Linked DNA regions of Homo sapiens. The protein of the gene in region 4 purifies or fractionates together with the protein of the main gene of each other region. This does not show direct contact. Each region holds a gene or a part of one and is shown on either strand. Other genes may lie near its edges. The genes, in order: ALMS1, UBE2Z, PPIP5K1, ZHX1-C8orf76, DMXL2, RIC8B and ALDH1A3.

Region 1 (3,500 bases), on a different chromosome or scaffold from region 4:
GCTGAAACTTTCAAAGCCTCTTCAGTTAGATGACTGTCTGGCAAGCCCTGCTGGTAGAAAATGCTGGGCTTCCCCCTATGTGAGTGGGAACTAGAGAGTACTGTTGGTGTTGCAGTCTTCTGGTCAGCTGGTTCAGGAATAGCTGTGACTTTCAGAGTCTCTTCAGTTAGATGAGTATCTGCTAATGTCTTTTGGTTGAGAGTATCAGTGTGTTGACCAGTAGTAGTTTCTAGAGGAGAACTTACAGCCAACTGAGACAGGTCCTCAAGGGACAAGGATAAATGAGATCCAATGTCTGAATCAACAGGAGTGGTAGTGATGCCTGACTTCAAGTTGGATTGAGTAACTTTAGCTATGCCTCCTTTAGAAGTGTCTCCTAAAGAAAAAGAGATTTGTTAATAGTATATAAAATTTTCTATTTTAAAATTCTATGTGCTGGAAAAAAGCCAGCTTTGAGCCTTTAAAAAGCTTCTAGAAATGAATCCTAAGGAAACAGCCATCAAAGGAGATAAATATTTGCACACAAAGATATTAATTAGAAAACTAAAGTAAAAACATTTTAATCTTCAACAACAGAGTAATGGTTATAAACAACAGTATATCCAGTGGATGAAATATTATATGGATCTTACAACTTGGATTTTTAAGAGAATTTTCAATGAGATGGGATAATGCTATTGGGTCTAGGATTTGATTTCACCCTACTTACAATCTGTTATTGTGTCTTGCAGGCTGGCAGAAGACATAAGGTCTTCAGTCAGAGACAAAAGACTTCATGATCCCTGGTACAGCAAAGGCTCATCAGCTTATTTTCACGGGTTCCTCCTGCCCCCAAGTCCCACAGGGGCAGTACAATATGGCCTAGAGGGATGCTATGCGTGCAGTGAGTTTGAAGGACTCTCCCAACAAATGCACCCTGTATAATATATATATATTTAAGTACATAAAACTGAAAAAACTCTAAAGGTTACTCTGAAGAGTTTTAACTTAATTCTGTATAGCATGGCAAGTTGTTTACAGTTTTAAAGTTTTCAAGATGAGTGAGAAGGGAATGTAAAAATCTAGGTTGCACAATCCAACAAACATTTCTATAGAAATGTTCTATATTTGCACTAATACAATAATTCTAAATGAAAGCAGTTTTAAACAGCAGTGTAAAGTAAGTGACTGCAACAGAAATGACAGGATTTGACAAGCTGTCCCTTCATTCATTGTTCATTCAAAATACATGAATGCTTACTATGTTCCAGGCACTGTTCTACATACAGCAATAAACAGACAATAATCCCTACCTCACAGAGCTAATTTGTATTCTAGCAGGAGGAGGCTGACAATAAATTGGTAAAACATATGATGTGTCAGATGGTGTTAAGATGATTGATATATAGAGCAAGTATTATCTATTTTTTACGTATAGGGAAACCGAGTTGCAAAGATGACCATGTAACAGTGCTTCTCAATGTTGGGATCTTGTTAACTTGCAGATTCTGACTCAGTAGGTCTGGGTGGGACCTGAAATTCTGCATTTCTAACAAGCTCCCCAGGGATGCCCAATGTTATTGGTCCTCAGACCACATTTTAAGTGCAAAGATACATAGTTTTTCTAGAATTGTAGGTGGGTAAGTGACAAAAACTGGTACTTTAACCCTTAAACTCTAAATCCAAGTTCTGAGCTCTTTCCACTACAACTGACTGGCTTTCTATGGCCACTGACGAGCTTCAAAGGAGCTGAATATAGAATGAAATGGGTTGAGGAGTGAATTTCAAAGTAAAGAACTAGAAGTATCAAGTATTAACTCTTCAAGAAAAGTAAAAAATTTAAAAATGTAACATGCATTGTAACCTGAGAAGGAATATGAGTTACAAAATTTTGTGAGGTTCTTGCCTGCTGGGTCTAAAGAAAATAAGAAAAGTTTTTGTGAGGAAACAAAACAGGCTCAAGAAGCTAATAAACCAAAACAGATTAACAAAACAAAACCTTGTTTTTCTAAATGATTTCCTGATTTCTCAAAGTTTTTATATCCCTTTGGCCATTACAAATTATTAGTGACACCATGAATGGGGACAAATGAGATAAATAGCTAAGGAGTTAAGATGTACAGCCCAGGTCCTTGAAAGATCCAGGTTACATAAGATAAGGTCTTTTTAACCTCAGGGGTAAAGGAAAAGATTAGTAAAGAAAACTGGAAGAACGACTATAGGTTAAGCTGTTAAAAGCGAGGGAGGAGATGCACGATGTTAAAGAAGAATTCTTGTCAGTTCTATATAAAGTTAAGGACATATATGTCAAACTGTCAGAAGAATGGTGATCACAAATCCATTAACTATGATTTATAAAATGTGTCTATGTACATAAGGAGTTCATGATGAAAAATGGTATGTTTTTAGAGTCCTTATTATTCTCTCAGCCCTGGGAAAGAAGAATACACTAAGTGTGAGTGTTAACAATATTACTACATACTGATATAATCTTTGGAGATTCATTTTCAGAACTAGGGGTGAGTTGAAGAGGTAAGTTTCGACCAAGAAGAGGAAGATGGCTGCCAGAAAAGACTATACTACACCAAAGTTGTATATTGGGTGGGAACTGTATGCCTCTTAGAGATGACATTAAGACTAACAACCTGGGTACAATTTACTCAAGAACTCTTCTCCATACTAAGGTGCTTAGTAACACAGAAGGCTTCCTAGGTGACGAAGACAGCACGGTTTTATTTCCCCAAGTATATTCTGACATAAGAAGAATAAGCAAGCCCTTTATTTCTCACAGACAAAATGAGGTACAATTCCATACTTCCATTTTACATATGACTAAGAGCCTCTTACTAGTAATCGTTCCAAGTCAATTATTATGGGTTTTAATACTAGCACACACAAATAAATTACTATAGCTCTCATTTTGAGCCCTCTAATTCAGTCACTAATAAGTCTGTAACGGGGCTGGGAAGGTAGTGAGGAGGATGGTTAATGGGTACAAAAATGTAGTTAGAATGAATAAGCTCTAGAATATGATATAGTACAATACGGTGACTACAGTCAACAATTATTTATAACGCATTTTAAATTAAAAGAGTATAACTGGAATTTTCACAACATAAAGAAATAATGAATGCTTGAGGTGACAGATACTCCATTTACCTTGATGTGATTATTACACATCGTATGTTTGTGTCAAAATATCTCATGTACCCCATAAATATATACACCTACTATGTTCTCATAAATATTAAAAATAAAAAAGATTTTTTTTTAAAAAGTCTGGCAAAAGCACCTATTGTGTGTACAGAGAAGTAAACTCAAATTCATGTTTTTTTAAAAAGACACCAGTGATATTTTAAATGGGTCTTTGTCTTCATTGTTGTTATTCTTGCTTTCTAATTAATTACTATATCATTTTTATAAGTTCCTAATTATTAATTATTGATAACTAAATAATTATAATTGTGTTGTATTTCGTTAATCCCTCAGTTAACTCATAGATGTTTATCTCTACATTCATT
Region 2 (3,500 bases), on a different chromosome or scaffold from region 4:
GCTACTCGGGAGGCTGAGGCACAAGAATTGCTTGAACCTGGGAGGCAGAGGTTGCAGTGAGCCAAGATCACGCCACTGCACTCCAGCCTGGGTGACAGAGGGAGACTTTGTCTCAAAAAAGAAAGAAAAGAAAATTCTTAGGTGTTCCTAGTTGACTGTATTAGCTTTATCAGCCATGTTTTTTTTTTCCTCTTTACCTAGAAAACAATGTTGGGCTGACTTACTGACAAAAGAAATTTAACGAGAGTTGACTCTGTTGTAAAGCTTCAGAGAGCAGTAGGTCTAGAGTTCCTGGGGGAGCAAAGCTGAAAAGATAGAGGCACTTAAGAGCAGTCCCCAGTGAAGTTACTATTAGGCATTACTGACTTGGGCTTTCCTCAAGTACAGCAGGGAAACAGAAGCAGGCAGTCAACTTGAACAAGCCAGTCCTGGCTTAGGTTGTGTTCGGCTTCCAGCTCCGGTGCCATCTCTTCAATTAATTGAGCTAAAAATAAATGTCATTAACATCCAAGCTGTCCCCTCCCCCTAATACTTGGTTGGGTTTATGAAAGAGAGGAGCAATTTTGGTATTTGACGTTTTCCATATATTATTTTCAGACCTTCCACTGTCTGGAAGCACCCCTTATTCTCTTCCTGTTCTTTGGAAGAGTTGTGTAGTCTTAAGAGAATTTGACACTCCTTGGGGGTTTGATACAGAACTGGATCCCCAATAGCCCCACCACATGGCCTCTAACCAGATGGCTTCAGTCACCTGTGTCCCTTTATGCTCAACTTCCCTCTCCCCTCACTAACTCCATCACCACCCATAAACAAGCTCTTTGAGATCCACGGAGATTAACATTTAGACAACTTTGGAGCTAATTGCTTACCTAATTTCTTTTGTTTTGATTGTCGTAACTGTTTCTAGTACAAAGAAAATCCCTTCAAAGTTACATAGCTTGCTATTACCTGTTCTTTTGCCCCCCCCCCTTGATTTGAGGATTAGGCAATTGACTGATTTCTGGTGAAATCAGAACATGAGCATGAGACAGAGGCTGGGAAATTCCAGAGTATTAATAGTGAAAGAGAAACTTATGGTGAGTCACTTATGGTGGTGTTGCCGGGCCCCAGGGTACTTGTTCCCTATTCTTTCTCTGCCTCACCCTCCATTCCTTCTGATGTGTTTACAGTACATGGACTGGACCTGCCTGGAGCCCAGCCCAGAGCATCTCCTCAGTGCTCATCTCTATCCAGTCCCTGATGACTGAGAACCCCTATCACAATGAGCCCGGCTTTGAACAGGTAAGGCCAGATGGGCCTGGCTCTGGGGTGTAGACTATTGTTTTTGTTTGTTTGGTTGGTTGGTTTTTTTGTTTTTTTTTTTTTTTGAGACAGAGTCTTCCTCTGTCACCTAGGCTGTAGTGCAGTGGTGCAATCTCAGCTTACTGCAACCTCCGCCTCCCGGGTTCAAGCCATTCTGTCTCAGCCTCCCAAGTAGCTGGGACTACAGGCGTGTACCACCATGCCTGGCTAATTTTTATATTTTTAGTAGAGATGGGGTTTCACCATATTGGCCAGGCTGGTCTCCAGCTCCTGACCTGGTGATCCGCCTGCCTCGGCCTCCCAGAGTGCTGGGATTACAGGCGTGAGCCACCGCGCCCAGCCAGAATAGTGTTTTAAGAGATCTGCTTGGGAGGTTTTTTTTGTTTTGTTTTGTTTTGTTTTGTTTTGGACCTAGCACAGCCCCATGTACTACATTTGTTGGTATAGGGAAAAAAAGGGAATTGACACGTGTTTTTTAGTAATGAAATTTTTTGCCGACCACTGTGGCTCACACCTGTAATCCCAGCACTTTGGGAGGCTGAGGCAGGCAGGTGGATCACCTGAGGTCAGGAGTTTGAGACCAGCCTGGCCAACCTGGTAAAACCCCATCTCTACTAAAAATTAACTGGTCAGAAGTTTGAGACCAGCCTGGCCAACATGGTGAAAACCTGTCTCTACTAAAAATAAAAGAAATTAGCTGGGTGTGATCACTTGAACCCTGGAGGCAGAGGTTGCAGTGAGCTGAGATCACGCCATTACACTCCAGCCTGGGTAAGGAGCGAAACTCGGTCCCCCCACCCCCAAAAAAATAATAATGGCCAGGCGCGGTGGCTCACACCTGTAATCCCAGCACTTTGGGAGGCCGAGGCGGGCAGATCACAAGGTCAGAAGTTTGAGATCATCCTGGCTAACACAGTGAAACCCAGTCTGTACTAAAAATACAAAAAATTAGCTGGGTGTGGTGGCAGGCGCCTGTAGTCCCAGCTACTCGGAGGCTGAGACAGGAGAATGGCGTGAACCCAGGTGGTGGAGCTTACAGTGAGCCAAGATTGGGCCATTGCATTCCAGCCTGAGCGACAGAGCGAGACACCGTCTTAAAAAAATAATAATAATAATGAATTTTTTTATTTGTGAGAGTTACAATAAGTATGTGACTTGGATTCCTTTATAGCATGGAAGTCAATGGACTCCTTTGGAAATTAATTCTGACCTGCTTTGGGGGTTGTGGCATCCAGTGGGTTCTATGTGCCTATATTCTCAGCATCCCCTAAAGTTGCTCTGTAGGGACTACTACCCAGCCAGCTGTTCTTCTGGGGTTATGAAGGACTGTTACCTGCAGAGTCAAAGGAGCTAGTCATTAGGAGTCCCGGGCAAGACTTTTTGAGTTAACAGTGCCAACGAGAAGGTGGAGAAAACTCACATTTTTCCAAGAGCATGCTCTGTGCTGGACACTACCAAGTTTTTATATATAATTTCTTGTTTAACCTTCATACTATGTGAGGTTAAATATGGTTATTCCCATTTTCAAGTGAAATAATGTTGCCTCAGAGAGGTTAATTAACTTTCACAAAGACACACAGATCAGGATAGGACCCCAGACTTACATTGGAGCCCAACTTCTCCCACTCTTCCGATGTGCCTTCCTGAATTACTCATGAGCACGGGAAAAAGTTCCAGTGATAGTCCCAAAAGAAAATGATTCCGGATAGGTGATTAGAACAGCTTAATTAATTTATTTATTTTTTGAGACAGAGTTTCACTATTGTTACCCAGGCTGGAGTGTAATGGCACAATCTCGGCTCACAGCAACTTCTGCCTCCCAGGTTCAAGTGATTCCTCTGCCTCAGCCTCCCGAGTAGCTGGGATTACGGGCACGCACCACCACACCTGGCTAATTTTTTGTATTTTTAGTAGAGAAGGGGTTTCACCATCTTGGCCAGGCTGGTTTCGAATTTCGGACCTCAGGTGATCCACTCGCCTTGGCCTCTGAAAGTGCTGGGATTACAGGCGTGAGCAACCATGCCTGGCCAACTTAATTTATTTTTAAACTATTACATATGACACCAACTTTGATTCTTCCTCTATAGACCTGAACAAAGGATAATAAAATGCCTTTCAAAAATGAAAAATAAAAATTTTTTTTGAGACAGAGTCTCACTCCATCACTCAGGCTGGAGTGCAGTGGTGTGATCTCGGCT
Region 3 (3,500 bases), on a different chromosome or scaffold from region 4:
TTTGCAGAAGGGTGGGAACAGGGTTAACTGACTGTGTGAGTGATTTAGCTGTTATCTCAGGTACTCCCGAGGCGTGCTCTCCCCAGGTCGCCACGTTCGAACGCGTCTCTATTTCACCAGTGAGAGCCATGTCCACTCCCTGCTCAGTGTCTTCCGTTATGGAGGACTTCTTGATGTAAGGATCCTCCTTCTTCTTTAGCCTGTGAACAGCTTTTTCCCAGCATTCTTTTACTCTTCTCAAATGAAAGCTTTCTCCATTCTCATTGGCTCCCTGCTCATTCTCTGACTCCCATTTCCTTAAGCAATGGCTTACCTCTTTTTGCATTTGGTAGGAGACCCAGGATGCACAATGGCAGCGAGCTTTGGATTATCTTAGTGCCATCTCAGAGCTTAACTACATGACCCAGATTGTCATCATGCTTTATGAGGACAACACACAGGTGAGGAGCTAGCAGGTGGGAGATGAGAGGAAGGCCCCTTCTTTTGAATTCTATTAAAAAAAAAAAACTTGCTTATCCTTATAATTTGGAGAATCCAGCTAGGTGTGGCACTTACGCACAGCATGACACAGAGCATCCAGGAGGTTCCTACTGGAATGGAAAATATGTTCTGGGATGTTGTTGAGCCAGAGAGGTAACCTAGAACACAGCTCTGGCATTAGAAGAGTATGGAATTTGGGACAATGTTATGAGTCTTATTTCCTCAAACATGGTTATACATATACCTTCTGCATACGGCTCCACAATGATACTTTTTTTTTTTTTTTTTTTTTTTTGAGACAAGGTCTCACTCTGTCACCCGCGCTGGAGTGCAGTGCTACAATCTGAGCTCACTGCAGCCTTGCAACCTCTGCCTCCTGGGCTCAAGTGATCCTCTCACATCAGCCTCCCAAGTAGCTGGGATGACAGACATGTGCCACCATGCCCGGCTAATTTTTTGTAGAGATAGGGTCTCAACATGTTGCCCAGGGTGGTGTCAAACTCCTGGACTCAAGTGATCTGCCTGTCCCAGCCTCCCAAGGTGCTAGGATTACAGGTGTGAGCCACTGCTCCTGGCCCACAAGGTATCTTTAAATGTTCTGCTATATGCACCACAGCCAAGCTGAGTTATTGTGGAAGGTGATGGGAAGCGTTGTAAAGCTGGAAGTTCAGAAGTCATGTGCAATGGTGAAATCACAAATGGTAGAGATGAGGGAATGAGGATCCTGTAAGAGACAATATATAGTTGAAAGGAAGCTATAACAGGTCAGCCCCGGAGTGGGACAAGACCCTGAATTCCTGGGAGGATGAATCCCCTTGAGTTCCTCTCTACTTCCACCACAATATCCAGCTTCTCCCAACTTCCCCCTCTTGTGGTTATGCTCCATAGGATCCCTTATCAGAGGAACGGTTCCATGTGGAGCTACACTTCAGCCCCGGAGTGAAAGGTGTTGAGGAAGAAGGCAGTGCCCCGGCTGGCTGTGGATTCCGTCCAGCCTCTTCTGAGGTGGGTCAGAGTGCTGGGATTTGGGACTGAAGGACTTAGGAACCAAGTGGTGGGAAGCAGTACAGGGAGAAGTAAAAGGGCTAGGTAGTCTGGGATTAGGATTTTGGAGGCCATTAACACCTCTCTTATCTGCCTTTTGTTGTATAGAATGAGGAGATGAAAACCAACCAAGGCAGTATGGAGAACCTGTGTCCAGGAAAGGCATCAGATGAACCAGACCGGGCATTGCAGACTTCACCCCAGCCTCCTGAGGGCCCTGGCCTTCCGAGGAGATCACCCCTCATTCGTAACCGAAAAGCTGGTTCCATGGAGGTAATGAGAGGGCCTTGGGAAGAAATGAAGGGGTGGCAGTGCTCATAGGACTATATCCACAGATCCACTAGATCCCCTTGGGGGGTCTCTTGGGACTTGAAGCAGAGTCCTCCTGCTCTGATTGATATGTTTTACTTAATCTCTCTTTCACAGCTGGTCTCCCAGTAGTGCTTCTTTAACTGGTTGCTACTTCTCAGATTAAAGAGTTGCCATTGAGGGATGCCTGAGAGATAAGGGTTTAAAGAGATAAGATTAAGGAGGAGGCCTCTGGATGAATTTGAAAAGGTAGTTCTTTAAAAGGAAATCTAGTGGAAACAGCTTGAACTCCGGGCCAAAATCCCAGTGTAATACTTGGAAGCTGTGTGACTTTGGCTGGGTAACTTCTCTACATTTCTCTGACCTTAACTTCTCTAAGCCTCAATTTTTTTTCACCTCTAAAATGTGAGTAGTATCCACTTTATAGATGCTCAACAAGCAGTAATATATTAACAATGCAATTGATATTAAAGGTCCAGCCCTCTCCAGCTCTTGGTCACCTTGGGTAAAAATTATAGCTCAGATAGGAGCAAATACCTGGCACTTTATCTGTACTGTCATTCCAGAAAGTGGGTCAGTCAAGAGCTCTGTCTGTCTTCCTCTTGTTCTAATGAGGATCTTTATCAGCATGGGCCTATATTCTGCTGTTCTTGGAGGTTGTTTCTAGTTCTGGTTCTAGCTCTCTAGCCTAAAGGCAGTAAGTGTTATTAATCTCATATTGTGTCCAGCTAACCATCTGAGGTTTTTGTTTTGGTCTTTTTCCTGGAAAAACTGTTTCTGTCTTTGGCCTAATTATATCCTTTTTTTTTTTCCCCTATCTTGCTCTTTCTGTATCACTTACATTCATTTTGACACCACAATTTATCCCTGTCTCAGAGACTTTGACTGTCTGATTTAGATTCTGCTCTGTCCTAATGACCGTGTTCACCCTGGCTCGGTGCCAGGTCTCTATCTTAGAGGAATTGGTTTTTCCATTTTAGGGATATATCAGAAGAATCTATAACAAGCTGACCTAGGTTCAGCAAAAGTTTTGCAATTCAGATTTTGGAGAAAGCTGAGAAGATGAACTGCAGTCTCTTCTTTTGATTCATCCTTTACTTCCTGATTATTTTAAGGTGAAATTGCCATTGGTAATATGCAGAGTTTCTTTAGGTAGGATATACATTATTTTCTCTTTGAGGTGTAGGTGTCGGTTGGTATCCGTAGTACTCTATTACCCTTTATACTCACATCCAATAGATCACATGGATAGAATGATACATAATCTTCCATCAATAAACTGATCCTCCAAATGTCTTTCCTATTCACATGGTCTGCTAGTCTCTCCTGGTGCTGTTGTGCCTGAACCGCGTCCCCCATCCCCCAACCATTTTTTTCTGGTTTATGCAGTCATAAGACATAGACAGCTGCGTGTGGTGGATCACACCTGTAATCCCAACACTTTGGGAAGCCTAAGTGGGAGAATCATTTGAGGCCAGGAGTTCAAAACCAGCCTGGGCAACATGGCAAGATCCTGTCTCTACAAAAAATTTTAAAACATTATAAGATGGAAAAAAAAAAAAGGCACAGGTAAAGGAAAGCTCTGTGTATCATCTCTCAGACTTGATAAGATTGACTTCTTTCAGGCCTATGGGAAGCTTCCTATTGTAATCACAGGCTTTCTTTTC
Region 4 (3,500 bases):
CAGTGTCTCCTTAATTTCCTCCGAGGAAGAAAACTAGTCCATTTAGACTAATTCCCATATAAAATTTACACAACAATCAATACAAATAATGCCTTAACCTAGAAACAAAAGCAATAAAATCTAGAACTGGAAAGAACTACCTTTCTTTATCCCTTAAAAAAAAATTCCGCTTTAGAATGTGTGGAAAAAGGCAATAAAATTTTTTTTTAAAGAAAAAGAAGGCCGGGTGCAGTGGCTCACGCCTATAATCCCAGCACTTTGGGAGGCCGAGGCGGGCGGATCACAAGGTCAGTTTGAGACCAGCCTGACCAACATGGTGAAACCTCGTCTCTACTAAAAATACAAAAATTAGCTGGGCGTGGTGGTGCATGCCTGTAATCCTAGCTACTCAGGAGGCTGAGGCAGGAGAATCGTTTGAATCCGGGAGGCGGAGGTTGCGGCAAGCCGGGATCACTCCACTGCACTCCAGCCTGGGTGACAGAGTGAGACTCTGTCTCAAAAAAAAAAAAAAAGAAAGAAAAATTCCCTTTTTCTTCAGCGAGGCTGCCGAGCTCCAGATGCAGAGATGCAGATCTTTGTGAAGACCCTCACAGGCAAGACCATCACCCTTGAGATCGAGCCCAGCAACGCCAAAATTCAGGACAAGGAGGGCATCCCACCTGACCAGCAGCGTCTGATACTTGCGGGCAAACAGCTGGAGGATGGCCGCACTCTCTCAGACTACAACATCCAGAAGGAGTCCACCCTGCACCTGGTGCTGCGCCTGCGAGGTGGCATTACTGAGCCTTCCCTCCGCCAGCTCGCCCAGAAATACAACTACAACAAGATGATCTGCCGCAAGTGCTGTGCCCGCCTGCACCACCCCGTGCTGTCAACTCCCGCAAGAAGCGCGGCCACACCAACAACCTGTACCCCAAGACGAAGGACAAAGAAGGCTCTTCCTTCCCCAAAGAGCGGCGTCCTGCCCAGGCCTCATGGCCCTGGGGCCTCAATAAAGTGTCATAAAGTGTCCCTTTCGTTGACTGGGGAAAAGGAAAAAGAAAAAAAAATTCTGCAAATTCCACTTAAAAATAAAAAGGACTACTAAGTGTGGCTTGGTAATGAGTATTTAGTCATTTTGGGGGGGGGACCTTTTTTGGCTTAGAAAAATACTGTTCATTGTAGAAATTTTGGAGAACAACGTCTAAAAACAATCTAACGAAGAAAACAGATCACTCATAGTCCTTCCACACTGAATGTTACTCCTAACAAGAGAAAAACCTCTGCAAAGGAGATTTTCAGGCAATACAGAATTTTGAGCATGACACAAGAAAAATATTACAAGAAAATGATTATGTCTAGGTTCCAAGTTGTTCATCATAATAAAACTCTCACACCCCTGACAATTTTCTTCTGCTTATCCAAACCCATAGATTTTGCTACTAGCAAGAAGTTTGTTTTGTTTTCAAAAAATACACCATTCGACCACCCTTATAGGAATGTGTGTGAAAATAAGCAATAAAATCACTCACCAAGTTTGCAGCAATCTCCAGCGCCTCCATATGCCTACCCAGGTGAGCCAGACACCGAGCCTGACCTTCCTGGACATCCCTTTTCATGGCAAAATTGGTTGATGACAATTTTTCAGAGATACTGGAATACTCCTGCAGTGCTTTCTGGAAATTATTTGTTAAATAAAGAAATGAAAGGAGGAAAACATAACAGAAAAAAGGATTCAGAATAGGGGTGATTTTTTTTCCTAGGTGGAAAGTAATGTTATAACTGACCAATGAATTACATGAATATTTAAATGAATTAAAGAAGATTTCACTATTCTAGTGATATGGTTTAGCTGTGTCCCCACCCAAATCTCATCTTAAATTGCAGCTCCCATAACCCCCACATGTTGTGGGAGGGACCTGGTGGGAGGTAACTGAATCATGGGGGTGGGTTTTTCCCATGCTATTCTCATGGTAGTTAGTCTCAGGAGATCTGATAGTTTCATAAAAGGCAGTTCCCCTGCACACACTCTCTTTGCCTGCCGCCATGTAAGACGTGACTTTGCTCCTCCTTCACCTTCTGCCATGATTGTGAGGCCTCCCCAGCCATGTAGAACTGTGAGTCCATTAAACCTTTTTTTTTTTAAATAAATTATCTAGTCTTGGGTATTTCTTCATGGCAGTATGGAAATGGACTAATACATCTAGTCAATCCTACTTTCCTAAAAGGTAGAGAAGGAATGGCTAGAGAATATAATCACTACTACTATGGAAAGCATCATGATATAGCAGAAAGAACATTCTGGGACCAAATATACTAGGCTTTGAATTCTGGTATTGCCACTAACTTACTTTATAACCTTTTCATCAGCAAAATAAAAACAGGATTCTCATGCAGATGAAATGAGATACATATGTAACGCAATCTAACATCTAGTTGTTAGTTCTTTTTCTTATACATTTTGGGGTGATTTGCTCCTGTGGCACTGTGAAATGTCTGTGCTAGAGGGTCCTAAGTAATGAGGAGATTCAGAACCTTGAGGAATAAACCTACAAGGACAAGGACCCCAAAGAGATCCTTTTGTTGGAGTTACAGAAAACAAACAAATCATACAGAGCCAAGCAGAAAAGAACGGAAACTTGGGAGCCTCAGATTATAAACACACATCACAAAAGATTAAACTCATCTTCATAAACACCACACTAACTTGGTACACTGTTATTTACATATGCCATAACTGATAAAACAAGAGCCCACTTCAAGCACCATATGTTGAATTCTACCTGATACTCTTGTCGTCTGTAGGCCAGGTCTCCTTTGAATTTCTTGAGAGTCAGCACTTCAACATCATCACTGCTTTCTGTTTCTTCATAAAACCACTTGAAATCATGAAAATAGCCTATTACAGAGTGAGCTATGCTTTTCCACCTCATATTCAGAAGCAATTTCCCATAATATAATTGATTAAACGTCAAAAAAAGACTTCTTCAAGAGTCTGGCCAGGTTAGTCTTGAACTCCTGAGCACAAGTGATCCTGCCTCTGCCCACCTTGGCCTCCCAAAGTGCTGGGATTACAGGTGTGAGCCACCGCACCCAGCCCACATTGGTTCTTTAAAATGAGACATGCTTTCTTGTAGATAAACTTTAGTGTGACTGGAATAGGGATTGACAATTCTTTACTGAAAGGACATAGGAAAGAAGAATTATAGATATGGTGCTATTATGAAAATGTCATAATGGCAAAAAACTAGAATTTCAGCAAAGGAGACAGAAATTAAGGCTAGAAGGAGGCTCCAATGCAACCAAATACCAAAAACCTGTAGGAGAGAAGTCTGAGGAAATGCCCATCTAGGATACTTTATTTGCTTTTCTACTGATTTAAATCCTATGGATAAAAAGGAAAGTGAGACTGAGATTGCTTGACTATTGAATAAATAACGTAGGGAAAGGCAGTGGCTTACACCTGTAATCCCAGCAATTTGGGAGGCCGAGGCGGGCAGATCACTTGAGGTTAGGAGTTT
Region 5 (3,500 bases), on a different chromosome or scaffold from region 4:
GGACTAGGGGTAGATAGCATTAAAGGAAGCCTCAGGAATCATGAAATGAGAGGATTTGAGAGTAAAACTTGCAGGCAAACGAAAAAAAAAGAAATTTAAGAAAACAAAAACCCACACACACAAAAATAAGAAGTGCAGGCAACTGGTTTCATATTTACATCAAATTCCAGGATTACATGAGCTATCTTTAAGAGAGAGTGAATATAGTCATGTCACCTTTGTTAAGATGTACTTGTCCCTCAATACCAAGTTACATCATGGATCAGGGTTTCAGAGCACTAACATAATGCAAAAGGATTCTACAAACTCGAAAGGACTGAAAACCCTAAAACTTCTACTGAAATATTTGGCTTCCAAATTTGTTTTAAAAAATTACTGACAAATGGCCGGGTGCAGTGGCTCATGCCTATAATCCCAATACCTTGGGAGGCTGAGGCAGGAGGATCACTTGAGGTCAAGAGTTCAAGCCAGCCTGGCCAACATCGTGAAATCCTGTCTCTACTAAAAATACAAAAATTAGCCTGGCATGGTGGCACGCACCTGTAATTCCAGCTACTCAGGAGGCTGAGGCAGGAGAATCGCTTGAACCTAGGAGATGGAGGTTGTGGTGAGCAGAGGTTGCACCACTGCACTCCAGCCTGGGTGACAGAGTGAGACTCCATCTAAAAAAAAAAAAAAAAAAAAAAAAACTGACAAGCTAGAGAAGTCTGACTAAATCTGAATTTTAGATATTCTATATTATATCCCATTTTAAGTACTGCCTTGGTTTCACAGAAGGAAATTAAATTGGTCAGGCATGACTTGTTTTTCTACTGTGCCATTATGGTTGTCACCCAACATCCTGTGCTCTTTCAGATAATTAAATACTGAGACTCTGATTTGTTCTAAAAATTTACCAAGATCCAAGTTAAGATAATCTGATTATAATTTCTAAAGTAATATTTTAAATAGCCCAAATCCTAAGAACAGAAACTAAAATAAAGGCATTGCACGGGAAAAGGAAAGCTGCGAAAGGAGAACCTAAACACCATCACACTGGTCCCATCTCCCACCCAATACTGTACTATGACAGTCGCAGGCAACTATCATCTGCCAGGTGCCAAGGACCAAAACCTAATCAAGAGGCTTCTCCTCAGCTGTAAGCCCAAAGACTCATTCCTAGACCCACTACTTCATAAATGCTCTGAATGGCCTATCTACTGAGCCAGAAAGGAGGTCAGACTCCCCGACTGTGAGGTCTGATCAAATCTTGTAAATACAAGTGAGATCTGATCAAGTCTTGTAAATACAAGTGAGAAGCAATATACGATAAAGACTCCAGACCTACAACTTCAACACAACCACTTTATGTTTCTAGTCCATTTTCTCTTTTGACCCCTGAAAATCTCTAGAGAAGTCCATATAATTTTCATTCGTGGTCTAAATACTTAAAGAATATCTTTAAGAACTTCTTTTACAGATCAAAGACCTAAACATGTTTAAGTGATTTCACCAACACCATACAAGTAGTTGGTCTCTGACCTCCCATTTTTGGGGAAGACATTATTCAGAACCTTACCAGAGTTTCTGAGTAGTTGCTAGGAGTCTTCTTGCTACAAGCAAGAAGGCTAATTAACAATCTACGCAGGGACATAAGAACTTATAAACCCTATATTCACTTACTGGTTGACACTAAGCCCAAGCCCACAAGGTTTTAAATGTATCCGTTTAAACAAACAAGAAGCTACACTCCAAGAACAAAAAGGCCAATTTCTCTTAGAAAACAAGTCCATTCTAAATTCTTGACTTCTGTCTTTCACTTTCCTCTCAGCACAGGTTAACACATTAATAACCAGCCAGTACAGAAGCATGTTTCTAACCAACCCCTTGATTCCCCTGGCCAAAAGTTCTCTTAGTCTTCCTGAATTCCCACTTAAATGCTGGTAATATTGCACAGCTGGCCTACTGTGGTTAGGTATGTGTCTTTTACTCTCGTATTAGACTACCAGGTTCCTACACTTCTTCAATAAACTCCCTGAAATCAAGACTATGTCTTGTAATTCTTTTTTTTTTTTTTTAATACCCACAAAGCTTAGCACACCTATGTGTTCAACATTTGCTAAATGTATAAACTGGTTGATCATTTTCAAGGTTTGGTGTTACCATAACTCTAGGACTGAAATTTTATTCTACAATAGAGTTAAGACATATCTAAATGCCATAAAAGAGGTTATACAACATTATTTTCTAATTTTTAAATGAATGGTTTTCCATTTATTTCCAACCTTTTGTTGGTATTTTAATTTAAAAAAAAAATTGAATGTCAGAATACCAGGTACGTTTTCCTGAAAAGCTACAGGTAATGTTTGCATATTATATTTTTTCAACATTCTAAGAGTGTCTGTTATTTAATGAAGAAGTCCTGTGATTAAAAAGTAACTTTTGCAAAGAAAACAGTCACTCAATAATTTATCCTTCGTATTATGCCATTCCTTTGCTTCTGTTGTTCTTATCTTTCCAAACCTTACTCTTCCATAAAACCTCTTCTTGTTTTCCCAACTACAATCTCTTCCATCTGCCTTATGTTATAATTATATAAATCATTTTAATCTCTGCCAGTATATTATAAATTCCCTAAGAGTGCAAATGACTTACTAATTTTTGTAAACTTTGATCAATGTGTTGAAATCATGTCACACTGGAATAATAGTAACTGCCCCTATACATCTCAAAATAGTCTGCAAGCCTTAAGGCCAAATGAATTTTTAATTTAAAAAATCATCACGTATGATCATTATTTCAATTAATATTTTAATATGTGCAGTAAAGTTTAAAAAATAGCCAAGGACTATCTTTCAGAAAAGTAATAACATAAATAATGAGAAATTTACAATATCTGTTGCATAAACCCTCAAAACATTCACTGAAGGGTAGTAAGAAATGTCTTAAAGGCAAAATAAAGTATAATAAAGCTCATACACGGGAGAAGATCATCTCTTTGAACTACCAGAGATTTGACTTATTGCAGGATAACATTTCGAAAACCTAGATCTTACACTGAAAAGAACAAAATTGTTCAAAAGGTGATGTTTTAAAATGTGATATCTACAGCTACATTTACGAAATCACAATCGAATGTTTAAGGAAACAGCTGTATACTGCCTAAACACAAGTGAAAAGCATCATAGCTTACGTGATACCACTAAAACCACAGACATCAGCTGAGATTGTCCACTACAGACTGCAGTACCATGTCAATATTGCACAAATTGGGACATCACGACATCAAGTAGTCATTCACAGCCAACCAATCACGCCACCCACCATGCACAGCAAAATATATAACACACATTTCTTTCAATTATTACACTGTCATAAACTCAAAATCCTTTTAGAACAATTCTGTTCTTCAAAGATGTATCAATTTTAGACTCTGAAATAAAGTATGTATTGTATTTTGAAAAGGTTCTCAGGCTACCATGAAACACAACATCAGCTAAGAATCATGAGTTAGTTGCAAG
Region 6 (3,500 bases), on a different chromosome or scaffold from region 4:
AATCTCTTTCTTTTTACAGGAGGGGGTGAATTTCAACAGTTATTTAAAGCTAAAAAGAGAATAAATGTGACATGTTATGCTTCTAGAAGGAGGGAAAAAAGCTTATGTCTACTTCACTTAATTTGTTGACTTCCTTAAACTAAGTTTCCTATTTAGCATATTGTTCTTGTGGGTACTCAAATGTAAACTATCAAATCTGCGTCACTTTGGGTTGCTGAAGGGTCCAAGCCACAGTGAAGAAAGATCTTTGTTTAGAAATAAGTCAAGTGGTTTAAAATAACCTTTCCCACACTCTGGTATAATCAGCTTGTTTTCTAGAACTTATATATGAGCACAGATATCTAGTTGTGGTCCTATGCCTCTGATAGTTATCTAACACTACAGAGAAACCTCCCAGAGACTGGGACAACAGGCATACACAGAGCATCTTCTACTCTCCTGAGCAGACACCAATTCTGATTGATCAACTTCAATTGGCTTGATCTGTCTTAACTTTTCTTTAAGATGGCAGCCACTGAAAATGCCTATAGCTTTATCAACTACATTGTTTTGTTTCCCCTCAAATCTTATAATTTAAACCTTATTCCTGAAAGCGGCACTCTTAAAAAGAGAGAATAATGCAACTCAGAAAACTATATTTGGCATCTTACAAAATAGTAGTCCATTTTTACACCTATTCTGATAGGTGTTATCACACAAATGGAAAGAATAAGACTTACAATGGTTAAGAAGTATATCCTGGGTAATACAATTGCTTAATGGGAGAAGTGGGAACTTTTTCCATTTCCCAACTTGTATTCTTCTCTTGCAGGAAACTCTAGGGATGTCCCAGACCAATTAAATTCCAGGTAGACAAAAATAGCCTTCTCTACCTTACCTCTTTATGCACCTTCCAACTGTCTACCGTCACATTGAAGAGAGCTTTGAGGGCCTCAATGGCACAGTCTGTCTCCTGAGGTGAGAGAGGAGGTCCATTATGGTCTATGGCCGATTCATACTCATCGGTCCACTTGATGCTAAAGGCACTTTCCAAGATCTGCGTTAGCAGCGGTAGTCCCTGGAGCTCATAGCGCAATTGTGACCTGATGTCGGTGTGCAAAAGTGACAGAAGGAAGAGCAAGCGCAAGTCAAAGCACTTAATGTCATTGATAAATTTCCGGTCCTTGCACTTTCTCAGGAGGTTACAGAGCTTTGCAGCAAGATTAAGTTCCAGGCTGAGCTGCTGTGCCATCTGACTGTTGAACACTATATTACACAGACATTTTAATGACTCCACAATAACTGGGAACTCTGATACTTTCTCCAAAGAATCATCTAACTCATTTAGCTTGGCTAGTCGCAGCAGTATCTGCATATTTTCCTTAGTTGTCACAGGAACTAAAACCTTTTTGTCTCTGGAGAGAATGCGGAGTACTTCCAGGCAGGACACTTGACATGTTGTTGGGATGTCCTTTATAAGGACTTTAAATATGCCTTCACAGAGTTTCTGAAAAACAAGAACGAGTATGCAAAAATCATTATTTGGCTCAAATGACTTAACACAGAATGTTTCTCTGCCAATGTACTTAACAACAGTTAAAAATCCAGAGAGAAAAGGTTTTTATTATTTTTTAAATCACGGAATGTTAGAAACTGAAATATAAGGTCACCATCAGGATGGAAGACAATCAGTTTGAATCATAGCTGTTCCCTTCCCAGAAATAAAGATTAACGTCTCAAGAATTGGTTCATATTTGTCCAGAGTACAGGCTCTTGCAAAAAGACTTAAAGAAGTATGCATTTCTGCTGAGTTTTAGTCATGCTATTGCTTCTGAATTTATAGCTCTTTAGCAGCAGTCCCATGTTTCAGAAACCCTTGAACCCCCTTTAGCTAAGATCTAATAATATTTAATCATCAAACAACCCCAGAGAAGAACTTTTGCTGACAAACTGATAAAAAATTATTCAAGTGTTAGGTTCCAAATAGAGTTGAATTAGCATCTATTATGCCTTGAGCCAATTGCAAAAAGGTGACCCCTCCTGGTATACAAACTACAGAAAAAAGTTCCCACTGGGTGGGCAAATTATTAAAAAGCACACATAGCTTGGAAAGCTCAGACTGTGGACAGAATTTTAGCTTTCTTTTGTTATCTTGCTGTAGGGCACAGACTGTACAAATATATGTAGTAGTTCTGGTTCCAAACCTTGCTATCAATATCTCAAAAACAATTCTAGAATGAACCCAAATATCTTATATTTCCTAAAAAGGATTTTTTTATACCATTGTCAAATTTAAGGATCACTGACCACTCCCTCAAAATTCAATGTCAGTTTTCTTCTCTACAAACTGCAGGTCTGGGTCTCTCAAGCTTACCCTTATATGTGAGGCAAGCAGGTATAACTACTCTATCACCGAACATTTCTGTACTCCCTTACATCTTATAAAAACAACAACTACTATTACCAATATAAGATTTTACAAAATTTCTATTAATCTATCATCAGACTTAATTCTTCAATAAAAAGAGGCTGCCTGTGGGTCCCATTGTGATCTTGTCAGGAAACCTAGGCTATGTGCACATAGTCATCAGCTACAAAAATGCCTATTTTAAATGTAGTCATCCCTTGGTATCTGTGTGGGATTGATTCCAGAACCCTCTGCAGATAATAAAATCCACAGATACTCAAGTCTCTTATATAAAATGGTATAGAAGGCTGGACGCAGTGGCTCACGCCTGTAATCCCAGCACTTCAAGAGGCTGAGGAAGGCGGAACATGAGGTCAGGAGATCAAGACCATCCTGGCTAACGTGGTGGAACCCCGTCTCTACTAAAAATACAAAAAATTAGCTGGGCATGGTGGCACGTGCCTGTAATCTCAGCTACTCGGGAGGCTGAGGCAGGAGAATCACTTGAACCAGGGAGTCGGAGGTTGCAGTGAGCCAAGATCATGCCACTGCACTCCAGGCTGGCAACAGAGCGAGACTCTGTCTCAAAAAAAAAAAAAAAAAAAAAAGGCATAGTATTTGCATATAACCTATGCACTTCTTACTGTATACTTGAAGACATCACTAGATTATTTATAATATCTAATACAATGTAAATGCTACGTAAATCGTTTTATTATTTAAGGAATAATGACAGAAAAGTTTGTACATGTTCTACACAACTATCCTTTTTTTCCTTGAGTATTTTCAACCTACAATTGATTAAATTCATAGATGCAGACTGCACGATACAGAGGGATGACTGTATTGCGTTCTCTAAATAGATGTGGAAAAGAACTTTATCTGATAAGACAAAAAAAAATTTCATAACATTGTCAATTCTATCCCTGCCATACCTGATATTTAGAAAGGACTTTCTCTTAATATTTTACTATCATTGTTAAAGCACTTTTTTTGAATGTAGTTTGGGGATAGTGGAAAGTATAATGTGCCCATTAATTAAAAGTATACAGAACAGGGAAAATTTTCTCCATATTTAGATCTTTCATATTCAAGACAAAAAAATACATTCTAC
Region 7 (3,500 bases), on a different chromosome or scaffold from region 4:
CAACAATAGATCATGGACAGCTTTCCTTGTTGTAACGGCTGTAAAACATTCCAGAGAATGAATATAATATCCTTGAAAATATGTCCCTGAAGCCTCATGAGAAAATTTCTCTAAGTAGTTTTTTCTTTTTTTGAAATGGAGCTTCTGAATCGAAAAGTTTTTCACTTTAAATGTTGGATGAGTGCTACCAAAACACTGTGCATCTTAGGGCAAGTGTCGCTGAGCACCTGCTTCCCCATATTCTCAGCAGTATCATTTCAGTTCTTAGCAATCTGGCAGGCAAAAGGAAAGTCTGATTTTGTTTGAATTTGCATTTTCCTGATTACCAGCAAACTAGTTTAAGCTTAATGGGCACGTCGTATTTCTATTCTCTGAACTGCCCATTTTTCTACCATTCAGTTTGGTTTTTTTTTTTCATTGACTTGTAGGAGCACTTTGCATATGACGGATATAAATTCTTGGAGCACTGCATGCATCACGACTATTTTTCTCTGAGCTTGTTATTTATCTCTTAATCTTAATTATGGTGTTTGACAGATGAATATTTTACATTTCTACTTTATCTTATCTCTCAATCTTTTCTTCTAAGGCTTCTGAGTTCTATTAGATATTTATTTAGTTTGGAAACTAGACCAGTGACTTTTTTTAACTGGTTGTTATGTACTAAAACATGGTCAAATTTAGAAGAAAAACAAATCATATTAAAGCCTGTCAAAGGAAAAGCTCACGGGTGTCAAATAACACGCCCCTTTCACTTTCCCCAGCACCCTGTGAGGAGGGTTACCTCTGTGGAGCCGGTGAAGGCGATCTTGTTGATCTGAGGGTGAGAAGAAATTGCTGCTCCCACTGTGGGCCCGAATCCTGGCACAATGTTCACCACTCCTGGAGGGAACCCGGCCTGGGAAGAAATCAAGATAGCACTTGAAGAAGAACGGACTTCATCCACCACGGATCCACATTTGGGCCGAGAGAGCCGTGGCTGCCTCACATCCCCACAGGGAACCCGGGCCGGGCTGGATTTACCCAGGACCCAGAAGCAGTTGACCGTGGGCACCCTGGGAGCTGACCTGGGCTTCTCATCCCCTGCTGCCAGCCCAGTGTGCAGGCTGGGCAAGGGGAGATGCCCACTTCTCCTTCTGGGGGGGGACCCCATCCCAAAGTGATATGCAGTGCAAATGTGTGGTTATGCTTCAAGGTGGCCATGGCCCGCCTGTAGCACAGCACCTTTCCATGTGGGGTGTGTGTGTGTGTGAGGGAGAGTGTGTGTATGCGTTAAGGGGAGAGGGGTACCTTGATCAGAATGCCCTGCCCAGGATCAGAGGCACCTGCAAAATATCTGCCAAGAGCTTCAGTTTTGTTTTTTCTTCTTTTTTTTTTTTTTGAGATGGAGTCTTGCTCTGTCGCCCTGGCTAGAGTGTAGTGGCGCGATCTTGGCTCACTGTAAGCTCCGCCTCCCAGGTTCACGCCATTCTCCTGTCTCAGCCTCCTGAGTAGCTGGGACTACAGGTGCCCGCCACCACGCCTGGCTAATTTTTTTTTTTTTAAGTAGAGATGGGGTTTCACTGTGTTAGCCAGGATGGTCTCGATCTCCTGACCTCGTGATCCACCCACCTCGGCTTCCCAAAGTCCTGGGATTACAGGCGTGAGCCCAGTTTTCATTTTTTAATCAGACCCGTTATTATTCCAAATGGTGACAGGGTATCACTCCCTTAAAGTTCTTTGCTTGTTCAACCTGGGTCTCACCTGGAGCAAGCCCTTCTGGAAGGCAGGGACTGCCACCTCGTTCACGTTCATGCCTCGTGTTTTTCATATACTAAGCCTCTTTATCAGGCGAGAACACAAAACAAACGAGGTGGAGGATGCTCTTCCCCACCTGTGCTGAGTCTTACTTAGAACACATTATTTCAGAAAATCAAGATTTTAGGCACGCTGCTTGAGTCTTTAGATTTTTAGGCACTGTTTCTTAACAGTTGGGATTTTCACATTCCTAAGTCTCACCAGTGTGACTTAATTATGCCCCACATCACCAAAGGAAAGTGGAAAATTGGCTCATCACCAGCTGTTCCCACCTTGCTTCTAAGCAACTGTGGACCTGCCTGCCGGTCATATCAGCCCGACTAAGAAGAGAAAGGAATGGATCTTTTCTTCTGTCCCTCTTTGCTTCCTGTTGCTTTCTCTAAATCTTTGCTCCATACAACCTGGGGATGGAATGACTAAAGGTATGTCTGGAAGGAGGTGTCCCATTGAGCCTCTGTTTCCCTAAGTTCTGGCTGCCTGAGGGAGAAGAGATTGCATTCAGAGCAGAGGGCACTGATTAGCAGGGACCCGGCACACGGACTGCTGCAGCCGCCCAGCTAGAGCTGACGAGGCCACCTCTCCAGAGAAAAATGGACCATTTCATAAACTGAGAATGCAAATCCCAGAGAACCTCCCAAATATTTGGCTCCCTCTTGGTTGACCCCCCCTGAAAATTCTCTAGACAAACCACTGGGTCCTCAACCATAGGTTTGAGCCCATAATAAGAGTTAAGCATTCTCATTAGGACCACTGGGAGGAATGGAGTTTCTCCAGCTCAGTGGCCACAAGCAGGAGAAAGAACGTGCAGTCGCCAAACAAAACACTGGAAGTCATTCCCTTCCCACTCGATTGCCAGCAGTCTGCCACTGTCCCATCTCGTGACGGTGGCCTGGTTCCTAGGAGTGGGAATGTTACCAAGAACATGTGATATTTTCTTTTTGGATGTCTCACCTCTTTGATCAGAGAGCCGAGATAAAGGGCGGTGAGAGGTGTCTGCTCCGCAGGCTTCAGGACCATGGTGTTCCCACAGCAGAGGGCGGGTGCCAGCTTCCACACCAGCATCAGCAGGGGGAAGTTCCACTGCGACAGAGCACAGGGGCTTTGGAGGCCCAGATCCACCCTCTTACCCTGTCCCATGTGCTCAACGATGCCTTTGTGGAGGACACTTGCTTTTCATGGTCTGGATTTGGGGTATGTGGGGTAACATAGGAGTGTGCAATGATCAGAACTGCAATCCTGCACAGCACTTCCTAAACTGCATTCTGGGTGGTACTAATAGGCAGCCTTTGCAAAGAGGATGCTGTTGCATGTGTTCTACCTCTCCCTCTAAAACATCTGCTGAAGACGTGTCCTCCTCCCTGCCTCCATGGGCACTTTTTGAACCCTCACTTCATGTTGCCACCTGGCTCTTCAGCTTCCTGCCTGGCTGTTGTTGCAATGGCCAGAGGCTTCCCAAACAGACAGGCAGCATTGTTGCACTTCTTGGGCACCTATAAGCATCCCCACCGCCCAATGAATAAAGTCCCGGCCCCTTAGCAGCCAAAGCTGCTGGAAGCTGGCCCACACCACCTGCCACGTGTGCTCACCCTTTTCCTCACTTTTGCTCCTGCCTGAGCTCTAGCCCCACCAGCTTTCCTGCTGTTCCCTTCCAAGTAGCCCAGCCACCTCTGCACTTTTGCCTAGGCCATTCCCACTCCTTGGAA

What was found.
Region 1: the proteins of ZHX1-C8orf76 (region 4) and ALMS1 purify together in Homo sapiens (affinity purification with mass spectrometry; one large-scale study listed by BioGRID and IntAct). This does not show direct contact.
Region 2: the proteins of ZHX1-C8orf76 (region 4) and UBE2Z purify together in Homo sapiens (affinity purification with mass spectrometry; one large-scale study listed by BioGRID and IntAct). This does not show direct contact.
Region 3: the proteins of ZHX1-C8orf76 (region 4) and PPIP5K1 purify together in Homo sapiens (affinity purification with mass spectrometry; one large-scale study listed by BioGRID and IntAct). This does not show direct contact.
Region 5: the proteins of ZHX1-C8orf76 (region 4) and DMXL2 purify together in Homo sapiens (affinity purification with mass spectrometry; one large-scale study listed by BioGRID and IntAct). This does not show direct contact.
Region 6: the proteins of ZHX1-C8orf76 (region 4) and RIC8B purify together in Homo sapiens (affinity purification with mass spectrometry; one large-scale study listed by BioGRID and IntAct). This does not show direct contact.
Region 7: the proteins of ZHX1-C8orf76 (region 4) and ALDH1A3 purify together in Homo sapiens (affinity purification with mass spectrometry; one large-scale study listed by BioGRID and IntAct). This does not show direct contact.

The regions. Positions count from the first base shown.
Region 1 is NC_000002.12:73,444,836-73,448,335, reverse strand, and holds part of ALMS1 (centrosome-associated protein ALMS1), read right to left. Parts: intron 377-3,500; coding exon 1-376. UniProt on the Homo sapiens protein: Involved in PCM1-dependent intracellular transport. Required, directly or indirectly, for the localization of NCAPD2 to the proximal ends of centrioles.
Region 2 is NC_000017.11:48,914,907-48,918,406, forward strand, and holds part of UBE2Z (ubiquitin-conjugating enzyme E2 Z), read left to right. Parts: intron 1-1,169; coding exon 1,170-1,281; intron 1,282-3,500. UniProt on the Homo sapiens protein: Catalyzes the covalent attachment of ubiquitin to other proteins. Specific substrate for UBA6, not charged with ubiquitin by UBE1. May be involved in apoptosis regulation.
Region 3 is NC_000015.10:43,569,709-43,573,208, reverse strand, and holds part of PPIP5K1 (inositol hexakisphosphate and diphosphoinositol-pentakisphosphate kinase 1), read left to right. Parts: intron 1-48; coding exon of another isoform or gene 49-60; coding exon 61-175; intron 176-332; coding exon 333-440; intron 441-1,368; coding exon 1,369-1,485; intron 1,486-1,632; coding exon 1,633-1,797; intron 1,798-3,500. UniProt on the Homo sapiens protein: Bifunctional inositol kinase that acts in concert with the IP6K kinases IP6K1, IP6K2 and IP6K3 to synthesize the diphosphate group-containing inositol pyrophosphates diphosphoinositol pentakisphosphate, PP-InsP5, and bis-diphosphoinositol tetrakisphosphate, (PP)2-InsP4.
Region 4 is NC_000008.11:123,236,287-123,239,786, forward strand, and holds part of ZHX1-C8orf76 (zinc fingers and homeoboxes protein 1), read right to left. Parts: intron 2,859-3,500; coding exon 2,763-2,858; intron 1,656-2,762; coding exon 1,512-1,655; intron 1-1,511. Other genes in the region: uncharacterized protein C8orf76, read right to left, coding at 1,512-1,655, 2,763-2,858.
Region 5 is NC_000015.10:51,616,272-51,619,771, forward strand, and holds part of DMXL2 (dmX-like protein 2), read right to left. Parts: intron 1-3,500. UniProt on the Homo sapiens protein: May serve as a scaffold protein for MADD and RAB3GA on synaptic vesicles. Plays a role in the brain as a key controller of neuronal and endocrine homeostatic processes.
Region 6 is NC_000012.12:106,812,682-106,816,181, reverse strand, and holds part of RIC8B (chaperone Ric-8B), read right to left. Parts: intron 1,487-3,500; coding exon 878-1,486; intron 1-877.
Region 7 is NC_000015.10:100,893,331-100,896,830, reverse strand, and holds part of ALDH1A3 (retinaldehyde dehydrogenase 3), read right to left. Parts: exon of another isoform or gene 2,878-3,500; coding exon 2,749-2,877; exon of another isoform or gene 899-2,748; coding exon 785-898; exon of another isoform or gene 765-784; intron 1-764. UniProt on the Homo sapiens protein: Catalyzes the NAD-dependent oxidation of aldehyde substrates, such as all-trans-retinal and all-trans-13,14-dihydroretinal, to their corresponding carboxylic acids, all-trans-retinoate and all-trans-13,14-dihydroretinoate, respectively.